2 separate regions of the Homo sapiens genome follow, and region 1 is linked to region 2. The links come from fine-mapping of genetic effects on gene expression. A gene starts in region 2. The other region holds a variant in brackets. All regions are shown on one strand. Distances are between the middles of the regions. Region 1 overlaps TMEM163 (transmembrane protein 163). Region 2 holds the start of TMEM163 (transmembrane protein 163).

Region 1 (5,374 bases), 41 kb after region 2:
TGCCTTAGCAGCCTGACTTTCTCAGCCATCATGCCACCTGGCCCAGAGCCATGGAAACTCAGGTTGCCTGTATTTTCTGAGCCTTCTGTATGCCTGGATTCCTTGGTATTTTTGTTGGAATTAGCACTTACAGAACAACTTAAAGTACGTTTATTCTGGCAGGTATAGGGTGGAGCCATTAGGGTTGCTGGGGAAGCCGGTGTGGTTAGAGAAGGAAGTCATGGCTGAGTATCTGGGCAGGGTGGGCGGGGACCTTGTGGGTGAGCTCATCACTTCCCCATAATTCAGCTGTGGGGTGGTGGTGGGAGCTGGCGACGAAGGTCTGGGATGTTTCTAGGCAGGGCACCTCTTACTAGCTTTGTTACCTTGTGTAAGATTGAGTATCTCTGCGTCTCTTTGGTCATTTGTAGAATGGGTTTAGTTATCCCTATCTTAAGTCCTTTCCAGGATTAGGTGTAAGAATCAAATAAAATGTCTTCGAAAGCTCCTGGGAAGCTCCTGAATGCATCTTACCTTTTTGCAAGCACTTACTTACAAAGTGCTCTTCCTTCCAACCCAGAGCACTGCGTCGCTCACTTCTATCACTCTGGTGAATTGTTCTAAGTGTAAATTCTCACAGGGGCCAGGCAGGTGTGAAAATGATTGAAGTGGGTGGCCTAGGCAAGGCCATGACATATATCTGTCACCTACTTGAAATGCCAGTCTTGTTTTCATGGAAGGAAATCTTTCCTGATCTTATGATGCATGATGTAACGTGCATGAGTTTGTCCTAGAGTCATGGAACAAACACATGAGGCCAGACATATATGTATAGTCATGTACACATATTCATGAACCGCAGGGCTGCTGTTCAGTGAGTGCGCCCCAGCATGGCTCCGCTGATTGTTAAAACACCACTTGGTAATCAGCCACTGCCCAAGCCCCTTACCTCCATCCTTGTGTCCCCCACCCCAGATCCTCTGGATGTCCCTATCAGCCAGCAGCTGAAAGGGCTGAGGCCTGGCCTGGTCTCTGGGACCTTCCCTAGGCCAGGGACAGACACTGTGCCTTATGCCTGACAGGGGCCAGAGCTCTGCTCGTTGTTAAATATGTTGATTGTCACCTCTGTGGACAAATCCATTATTTTCATACACATAGGTAGATATTGGAAGAGATTTTCTGCTTGGTGAAAGACTGACATTCAGCAGTTGAATTAATAGCTGTTCTCACATACAGGAGCCTCATTAAAGTGTAGCTTATCCACTTGAAGTTAGAACAAAATAGCTTTATAAAAATTCAAATTTTAAAGCAATGAAAAACCAATAACTTGAGATGATTAATTTATTCTGCAGACATTTATTGATCACCTGCTTTGTGCTTGGAAAAATAATACAAATGTGCCAGGGCTTGCTATTGCTTTTGGTACTTGCAGCCCAGTCGACCTGGGGAATGGGAAAGGACTCCCCAGGCTGACACAGCTTATGAGTAGCAGAGACGGGCCTTGAGCCCAGGTCTGAAGATTCCAGGGCCTCTGCTCTGACCTTCAGCCTCCCTCTCAGCGGATATGTGGAAGGAGAAGGTGGAGATGGCACAGTCCTTTCCTCATCCTGGTGGGAGGATTTATATGTAAACTGGGAAAGTCCCTACAATTGTATTTTATTTACAGAAAGACAAAAGCCTTTTCCTGTTTTTCTTTTCTGAGACCATTTGCAACCCTAAAGTCTGAAAAGGCAGCCAATGAGAATAACAGATTCACGTGTTTCCACGGGCTTGAGAATGAGACAGGGCGTACTGCCACTGCTTTGACCTTGAGGCTCAACAGCCATCTGCCTGGATTTACACAGTGAGATTGCTCCCTGTCCTGGCGCTCGCACCCCTCGGATGTAAAGCCTCGGAGTTCCTGCAGTCACTCTGTGGCTCCCTTTACCCGTGGGTGTTTGCAGCTGGACTCAGAAATGGAGCAGATGTGATAAAAACGACTTTAAATAGCCCAGTGCAGTCCAGGAAAATGGACGTTCTGGAGCAGAAGCAGCAGAATCAATTAGCTAGGGTCGATCTGCTTCCCTGAGACCGGAAAGAAACCAGGACAAAGAGTGCACTGCAGGTTGTGTTGGGCATTGCTGGCACGCCTTCGTTTTTTGTGCTTGGCTGCGGGTGGGCTTACTGGAACGTGGAGGGGTGTCTCCTGGCCAGAGTCTCTCCTTACTGTCAAACTGTATGTGGAGAACTCATGGCCTCATTAGGTCGGTCCTATGTATCCAATGACATTGGAAGAACTGCTGCCCATTTCATTAGGAACTGTTGACACAGG[G/A]GTACATTTATTTAAGAAGACAAAGATTACAGAGTTAATTACTACAAAATAATATTATAGAAGTAACACATCATTTTGGAAAAAATGGGAAATAATCCTCTACTCTTCTGTATCTCAGGGACAGCCATTTTAATATTTTTTGTTCATTCCTACAATCTTAATCCATTTTAAGAAACGTATAGCTATGGTCATATTATAGATAGAGTTTTTATACACTGCTGGTCTTGGGTGACTTTATTACAAAAAGACTTTTCAGAGACAGAAAGTACCTTCCCCCTGCTCCCCGCAAGAGGAATTTAACTTTTTTCTTTTGCTTATAAAAGCAATACATGGCTTGGCTTAAAAAAAATCCAACTATATTGAAAGCCAGTAGTTTCTTTATGATTCAAAAGGCCACTGCCACTTTTATTTTTGTCTTCTCCATGCCTTTTCGTGTGTGGATTGCATAAGCTTTTTTCTGTAGTCTTTCTCTTATAAGGAGTGGGATTTGGTTCTGAGGGAGGGGGTCTGGCAAGATCAGTTGCTGACACTTCAGAGACGCCTTTAAAAATAGCTCCATGTCGCAGGCCAGCGGGCCTCACTGCTCTGCAGCCTCCGTCCCAACGTGAGGGTCTGAAACCTCTTCAAAGCCATAATTCTCTGCACGCCAAAGCCACGAGGTCTGCGGAAGGAAGCGAGAAGAGCAGGGTCGCCGGAAGCTGACCTGCTTTGATTTGGAGCATCACAAGTTACACTCAGGGAGTGTGGACATTTTCATAGTGTTTTATCTCTCTCTCTCGGGTGGGCTGCATCTGGTTAAAATGTCTTCTGCAGAGAACTGTAGAAGAAAAGCTGCTGACAGAAAGCATCAGTACAGACTCTTGTATTTTTTTCCTGCCCTATTTATGGTGGTTTATCAGTTGGTTCTACAAGATAATCATGAGGGTAGTTAATTTTCTCATTTAGCACTGGCTCCTATGGTGCTTATCCATTAAGGTCTGTTCGTCTCAAATATTTTTATGTTTAGATGTATATGTATGATATTGTATGATATTGATTCCATTTATGTGAAGTCTTGATTCTATTTATGTGAAATATCCAGAATAGGTAAATGTATAGAGGCAGAAAGTAGACTAATGATCGCCTAGGACTGGGGCTGTTGAGGGACCGTGAGAGGTCACTTCCAAGGACTTCCAAGGACAAGAAGAATGTTTTGGGGCAGAGGAGTGATGAAAATGTTCTAAAATTAAGTCTGCTGATGGTTGTACAGTTCTGAATACACTAAAAACCATTGAATTGTACACTGGAAATCAGTGAATTGTATGGTTCATAAATTGTATATCAATAAAGATGTTAAAAAATATGAATATTTATATATATATCTATATCTACTGCAGTACTAAACAATGCAGCCAGTGTATCACCCATTGGAAGGGCATGTCCCTTAAAGAGAGAACAGACATGTAAGAAACAACACTTTACCCATAGGAATGAGTGGAGATTCAGGCCTCTGAAGATTATTTTTTATATTTCTGAGAAAGGATGGAGGGCTACTCAATAGTGCACTGGAGTGGGCTGGCTCACAAGAGCTGATGGTTACATTTTCAGTATTTTGCAAGCTAATTGACGTCAAGTTGGTAGCTTGAAATTGGCAATGGGGAGAGTGTATTTACACCATAGAAATTGGCAAATGCTGCAAGTCGGGGCCTTTTTTCCTCCCAGAGAGCCAGTGAAACATTGACCATCATGCCACTGGCCCCATTCTGTTGTACCTTATGTCGCAGGTCAGTTTTACTCCAGGCAATTGAATTAAGAGCTGAGCTTAGGAGAACTGTCTTGATGTGGGGTGGGGTGCTCAGGAGGGCTGACTGTGAAATCTGCTAGGCTCACATTCCCTCCACCAGGAAGCATCTGGCTAGCTAACATGTCTATTTAGGGTTGGGGTGCTGACCTGAAGGGCCTCCTGTTTTGGGGGAGTTATGCTCTGTGGATAGTCTGCTAATCATCAGTGATTGCTTTTGCATGGCCTTTCTGCTTTTGAGAAAGAAAAATTTGATTCCTAAATCCTGGGACCGGATTTGTTCATTAGTGCTGCTGTTTCACTGGAGGCTGCCCTGTTGGGAGCTCTGGATGAAATTTGCAACAGTAACTTGTGAAGCTAAGCAACAGAATCCACCTTACTTCTTATTCATCTTCTTTAATTTATTCAATCTGATTTAGGCTTAGATATCTAAAAGTCATTTTTTTTTCAGACAGGGAATATCTGAATTATTCATATCCTTCTCATATTATGAGCTGAGCATATCGGTCCCTTGAGAAATCATTGCCACATATCTTACTGCTGTTCCCGTGTGTTACTTTGTCAACATCTCTGAGTGAGATTAGTCATTAGATGGTCAGGCACACTGGAAATTGTGGAAATAATAAAGGTTTTGAAAAACCTCAGGCGATACAAGTGGCTAAAGTTTAAACCCAGATATAAATTCTCCTTATGCCTACATGGTTTAGATTTCTTTCACTTGTTGATTATTTTTTATTAAAAGGAAAAGTCACTGCATGATCTGAGTGTTTTATTATAGTTTACTAATATTTGGTGTGTATTTTTTCCTTCTGTAATGATCAAAATGAAATTTTAACAGGAAACTTTCCTGAGAATGGATCCTTCCCCAAAATGGAAACATTCATGTGTTTCTTTTCGATAATACATATTGTAAAATTCAATCAGTACATAAAAAGTAAAAGTGATGCTTAATCCTGTCAACCTGAATAAGAAACAGAGAGAGAGGCTCTCTAAATGAAAAAGATATTTACTCGGAAATGAGCTTTGCCATGGGAGTACACTTGCCATAGCAAATTATGTACGTATTCAGGGAGGTGAAGGAACACAAAGGTTTTTTAAAGGAACATGAAGAGGGTGACATAATTGTTTTGAGATAAGTAGCTTTGGCTACAAAGATCAATAACAAGGGTAGTGCCAGTCTGAGGTTGGATAGGCAGTTGCTGGGTAGATGTCCTTGCAGAGGTATTTTTAATGTAAGGTTGTGAGGGCCTTTGCGCAAGATTGTGGTTTTTGCAGTCGTTTGTGATCATTTTTGTTATTAGGCA
Region 2 (5,374 bases):
GTCGCCCAGGCTGGAGTGCAGTGGCATGATCTCAGCTCACTGCAAGCTCCGCCTCCTGGGTTCATGCCATTCTCCTGCCTCAGCCTCCTGAGTAGCCGGGACTACAGGCACCTGCCACCACGCCCGGCTAATTTTCTGTATTTTTAGTAGAGACGGGGTTTCACCATGTTAGCCAGGATGGTCTCGATCTCCTGACCTTGTGATCTGCCCACCTTGGCCTCCCAAAGTGCTGGGATTACAAGCGTGAGCCACCACGCCCAGCCAATTTTTTTTAAGCCCCCAGATGACTCTTAGAATGGGGAAGTGCCTTACAAAATACCCATGCCAAGGTCCCAGCCAAGAACGATCACGTTAAATATGATATCAGAATCTCTAGCAGTCGAAGCTTCGGTATTTTTGTTCTTAGACTCCCCAGGTGATACTTTGAGAGCCATTGACAGGGGGATTAAATGGGATAGACTGGAGGAAAAAAGTGGAGGAGATGACTCTGCAAATATATCTGAAGGATGTTCTACCTTAGAGGATAGAACCAGGATTAATGGGTAGAGATTTTCATTGTCTTTATCCAAGTAATCATAGCATTTTTCTTTTTCTTTGCAGCAGGAAGGGATCTTTGAAATGACGTAGTTCAACTCTTTCAATTTGTAGTTGAAGAAATTAGTGGTCAACAAGGTAAAGTAAGTTGGTCAAGGTCAACTCAGATCTTCTCATTCCAATCCAGCAACAACAATAATAACAGCAGCAACAAAATAAAGTAAGACCCCTCTCCCCATTTCTGGTGATATTTCCAGTGCACCACAAAGGCATTTAAATCCTACTCTCATTTCAATCACAAGCAAAGCAGACAAGAAAAAGGAAAAGGGTGACTCTTCAAGAAACGAGGAGGACTCCTTTAAATGAGGAATTGACATTTTGGAGTACCCGGATTAAATTCAGAGACTGAATCAATCTAAAGACGAAAGCCGGACTCTAGAGCTTGGATGTTGATACCATTGAAACGGTAGGGGCAGAAAAGGTGTGATACTTTCCTCCCCATCATAAGGGGCACGGCAAACATGCTTATAACAAAAGATAGGCTAATAAGAGAAAAGCGTAACAAATTTATTGAATCAAAGTTTTATGTGATACAGGAGCCTTCAGAAATGAAGATGCAAAGACTCAGGGAAAACTGCCTGTTTTTATGCTTAGATTCAGTGAAGAATGGACAGCCTTATAGAAATGTGATTGGACAAAGGGTGTGATCTAATGGTAATAGACTGAGGGTTGAACCCAGCGAGGCCTGTTCAGATTCTTCTTGGCCTCTCTGTGCAGCATGTATAGAGCAGGACCTCTTCTGGAATGAGGGTCTCAGGATCTACTATCAGACAAGGTAGGTCTGAGTATTTCTTCATGGCCAGCTCCTACACAGAAAGGCAGAGGACCAGGGAGGTTGGAGTACTATTTCTAGGTTGTATGACCACCGTAGGGAAGAGGAATTCTGGTTTCTGTGAACTGCTTAGTGGGGAGAAAGTCGGGGGGGAGACAGACTTTGTTTCTAAGGCGGCTTCAGAGGCCTGTTTAGTTTTTTAGTTCAAACTTAGCATACCAAAGTGCCATACGTTGGGGTATACTTTTCTGAGCCTCAACAAATCCAAGCTGAATTTATTAAACAGCAGGTCCTCTTTTGCTCCTCTCTGGGCATCAAGAGAGCTGGCGTGTGCCCTGCGGTGGACTCTCACTGGTGAGATCAGCCCCACCGCACAAAATGAATTAAGAGCTGCAGGGGTCAGAGTAGGGGAGACTTCTCGTAGAAGGGAGGCTTCCATGGATTTCTGAAGATCACACAAGACTTAGATGAGCAGGGGAGCGAACTGTATGGGACAAAGGCCCAGGAAGAGTCGAAATGGGGAAGCCTCGGAGTTCAAGCATCTTCTATAGCGCCCGCTGTCCTAAAGATACCCCATCCCTGGCTAAATGGGTGCTCCAGGGAGAAACTGGGAGGGGAGTTAAAGCTCCGAGAAGGACGGAGAGCGACGGGCTTGGGGACAGATGAACCCTTTTTCCCTGGATGAGCAGTGAGAATGGAGGCCCAGGCGAAGACCCTGTACAGCCTCTGAAGCCTGTGCAGCTCCAGAAGAGAAAGATGCCAAATTAGGGGCGCTGTCTGCTACCCACGCGCGGCCGCGGGCTTCGCGGACCCCAGAGGAATCCAGTGGGAGGGGTCCCCTCTGGGCACCATCCCGCGGCGCAGGTGGGGCGGGTCCCCGCTACGCCCTAGCCAAGCTCTGCCAGGGCCGCCTGTGGGTCCTCACGCTGGTTCCTCCCTCTCGTCCGCCTCGGTGCGCCGGCTCCCGCGCCCGGGCCTTGGGGCGGGTCCCTGCCGCCCGCACCTGCCCCCAGGGGCGGAGCGCGGCGGCAACAACGCGGCCCCAGCCTCCGCCACCGGCCGCGGAGCCGAGCGGCTCTCCGCTCGTCCCCGCCCCCGCCCGTGCACCTCCACTCCGCGGCGCCCGCCCGCCCTCCCTCCCTGTCCACGCGGCCAGTCCGTCCGCTCCTGCCCCCGCCAGAGCCGCGGCGCCTCGCACTTCTGACTCGAGTCCCCGCCGCGCTTGTCGTCGCCGCCGCCGGGATCCGCAGCCCCGCGCCATGGAGCCGGCCGCGGGCATCCAGCGCCGCAGCTCCCAGGGGCCCACCGTCCCGCCGCCGCCCCGGGGCCACGCGCCACCGGCTGCCGCCCCCGGCCCGGCCCCGCTGAGCTCCCCGGTGCGCGAGCCGCCCCAGCTGGAGGAGGAGCGGCAGGTGCGGATCAGCGAGAGCGGCCAGTTCAGCGACGGGCTGGAGGACCGAGGTGAGCGCGAGCTGCCCGACCCGGCCGGCGACCGGGGTGGCTGCTCGGGGCCCGCCTCTCCCCACTCGCGGGCCGCGCTGGGCGAGGCGCGGGGCTCGGAGCGCGCGGGGGCGCGGAGCCCCGACTTCCCGGCGAGAACGCCGCTAGCCGAGAGCGGCAGCCCCACCTTCTGCGGCCGGCACCGCCTCGGCTGCGGTTCCTTCCCTCGAAGCCCAGACCCCAGCTGCCTTCAGGCCGACCCCGCCTGGACTCGCGCCCTCCTCTCCGCCAGCTCCAGGCCCTCCGGCGCCCACGGGAAAAGTTTGCGGGAGGCATTTTTTGCGTTCGGAGTCGAGCGCTTCTGGGCCACTCCGGGCCCTACTCAGCTCGGAGGGACCCAGGCTCGTTGCATCCTCCTTTCCGTAGTCCCCTGCGGCTCCGCCGGCTGCCTGGGAGAACTTCCCTCTGCGGGTGTAGCCGCGAGATGTCCCTCGGCGGCCGCCCGGCTGCCCGCCCCGGCGAAGGGCGCAAGGAGGGGAGCGAGCCGGGACTCGGGCGGCCTCTGGTCTCGGGCAGTCCCCGATTCTAATCGCGGACGCGGGTCACAGTGGGTCCCTGCCCCGTCGTCTCATGATGGGGCAGAGGAATGGGACATTTGGATTTGGGCCACCAACCTCATCTGGATGGATGCCACTGAAACCTGATGTTTCCGGAGGGCGCGTCTGCAGACCCTTCAGAGCTCCCCTCCACTGACACTGGCCTGGAGGTCAGCACACTTGCCTCTGCTGGGAGACCACACTCTGCCTCCCACCGACTGCCGATGCCCCCTTGAGTCGCCAGTGTAGGACGGGAGAGACTCCCTGCTCGTTCCCGCGTCTCTCTTCTCCATCCCTTCCGCGTTTCCTTTGGGCTTGGATTCTTTGCAGAGGGAGCCCTGTTCTTGGCCGCGTCTGCACCTTTTCTACTTCTTGCTGAATCCGAATCCAAATTGTCCCCCTCAGAACGAATCTGTGGTTCTGCTAAAACCGTTTAGTGGCCAAAGAGGGATTCTTGCAGCCAGGCCCTTTAGGGGAAGCCGGCTCTTTTGCACCTCCACCCCCTTTTCTTGGAAGCCTTATTTTGTTGGCTATGGCGGGTTTATATATTTTAGACTTAGCAGGTTTCTGTCCTATTCTTAGTATCTCCTGTACATTTTTATTCCGGTTTAGTGTTCGGATGCACGATCTCTTTCTCCTTAGAAATTCTAAACTGTAGCATGTGAAATAAAATGACATGGAAACGGCAGTTCCCAGAGAATCCGCCTAGATGCTCAGCGAGAACTGGAGCTGCTCCAGTGGCAACGAATTCTGCACCTCTGTTGCAGTTTCTCCCCCTGTTCTCACATAACTAGATGCCATTTAAGAGGTGAGGACAGGGGACATCACGAGCATGGAACAAAACCTCTCACTTTTATTATAGGATGTGTTCATTACCTTTGCCCCTCTCCAGCTAATATCGTAGGATTTAAAAATTCCATATTGAAGAAAGACAGAAGCCTGGGTTGAGCTTATTTTTGTAGCATTGCAGGTCATCTCTAAGAGCTGGCCTGTTTCTCCCTACCCCACAAAATGATAGGAGGGAAGACAGTGCTAGGGTGAGTTCATATTTAGCATCATTTTGTAGTTCATGTTCAAGTGTAAAAAGCCCTTCTGAATTCATTCTTAAGGTTATTTTTCTCTGGTCAACGGAATTTCATTTTCCATTATATGATAGCATGAAAGCATTGACTGTTCGTAAACTGTCACTGTTTGAGAGCGTGGCATATCACACACAGCCTCTCTGTTAGGATGAACCCTATTCGCCAAAGAACCCGGTGCTGTGTGGCATTGAGAGCTGAACGTCAATGTGACATTCTTTTGTTTGACCTCTTCCTGATGGCAACCAGTATGTGGTGAATAAGTGATTTTTGTTAAGTAAACGAGAACGTTACCTGGGGAGGTTTACTGTAAGATTTTGTGTTTGTTGTTTCTGTTATTTTTTTTCTTATGGGGCTGCATTTTTCCAATATTGATTTTTATATCCTTTGGGAATGGGTTGAGTGCAGCTACCTCTTTCCTGCTGGTGAGAGGAATTGGGGAGGAGGAAGCCCCAGCACTTGCCTGCCGTGTGTCTCTGCATCCTGCCTGGCTTGCTTTCTTTCAGGCCTAAATACCTATAGGCTGTCTGTAGAGGGGTTGAGGGGTACCTCGGATCTGCACCTGTATTTGGCATTCTCTTTTGTCCTAACTCCCTTTGGAGCTATCAGGATGTGGTTCCAGACCACAGTTAACTCTCATCAAAGGTTTGCTTTAAAATCTAGTGTTTTGAGACTTTGGAGGCATTTGCGCCTTAGAAATGATGTGGGCTGGTTCTCAGAAACCTAGCTAGCTCAGAATGTCAGTAACTGCAGTGCCATCTGGTTGAACTTAAAGCTCAGGGAGCAAGAGCTCTGTGGCCTAAGACCTTTGGGGACTAAACACAAAAATTAGGCCAGGTTTATCTTAATCATTCTTCCCATCCCCTTTGAATACCTATTCTTCTCCCTACAAG

The links. PIP is the estimated chance that this variant, and not a neighbour inherited with it, causes the effect.
Region 1: its variant is fine-mapped to the expression of TMEM163 in whole blood (TOPMed, PIP above 0.99).

Annotation. Positions count from the first base shown.
Region 1 is chr2:134,674,735-134,680,108 of GRCh38, reverse strand. All of the region lies in intron 2 of TMEM163 (transmembrane protein 163), which reads left to right. Among named protein-coding and RNA genes, the nearest start is that of TMEM163, 42 kb to the left of the region's middle. The variant G/A (reference allele first, on the strand shown) is at 2,291.
Region 2 is chr2:134,716,187-134,721,560 of GRCh38, reverse strand. TMEM163 (transmembrane protein 163) reads left to right here and starts at 2,561. Exons shown (of 8, transcript NM_030923.5): 1 at 2,561-2,827. The coding sequence starts at 2,626. LOC105373629 (a long non-coding RNA gene) reads right to left here and starts at 3,449. Exons shown (of 2, transcript XR_923354.4): 1 at 2,994-3,449. RefSeq lists an enhancer at 1-535 and a silencer at 2,238-2,477.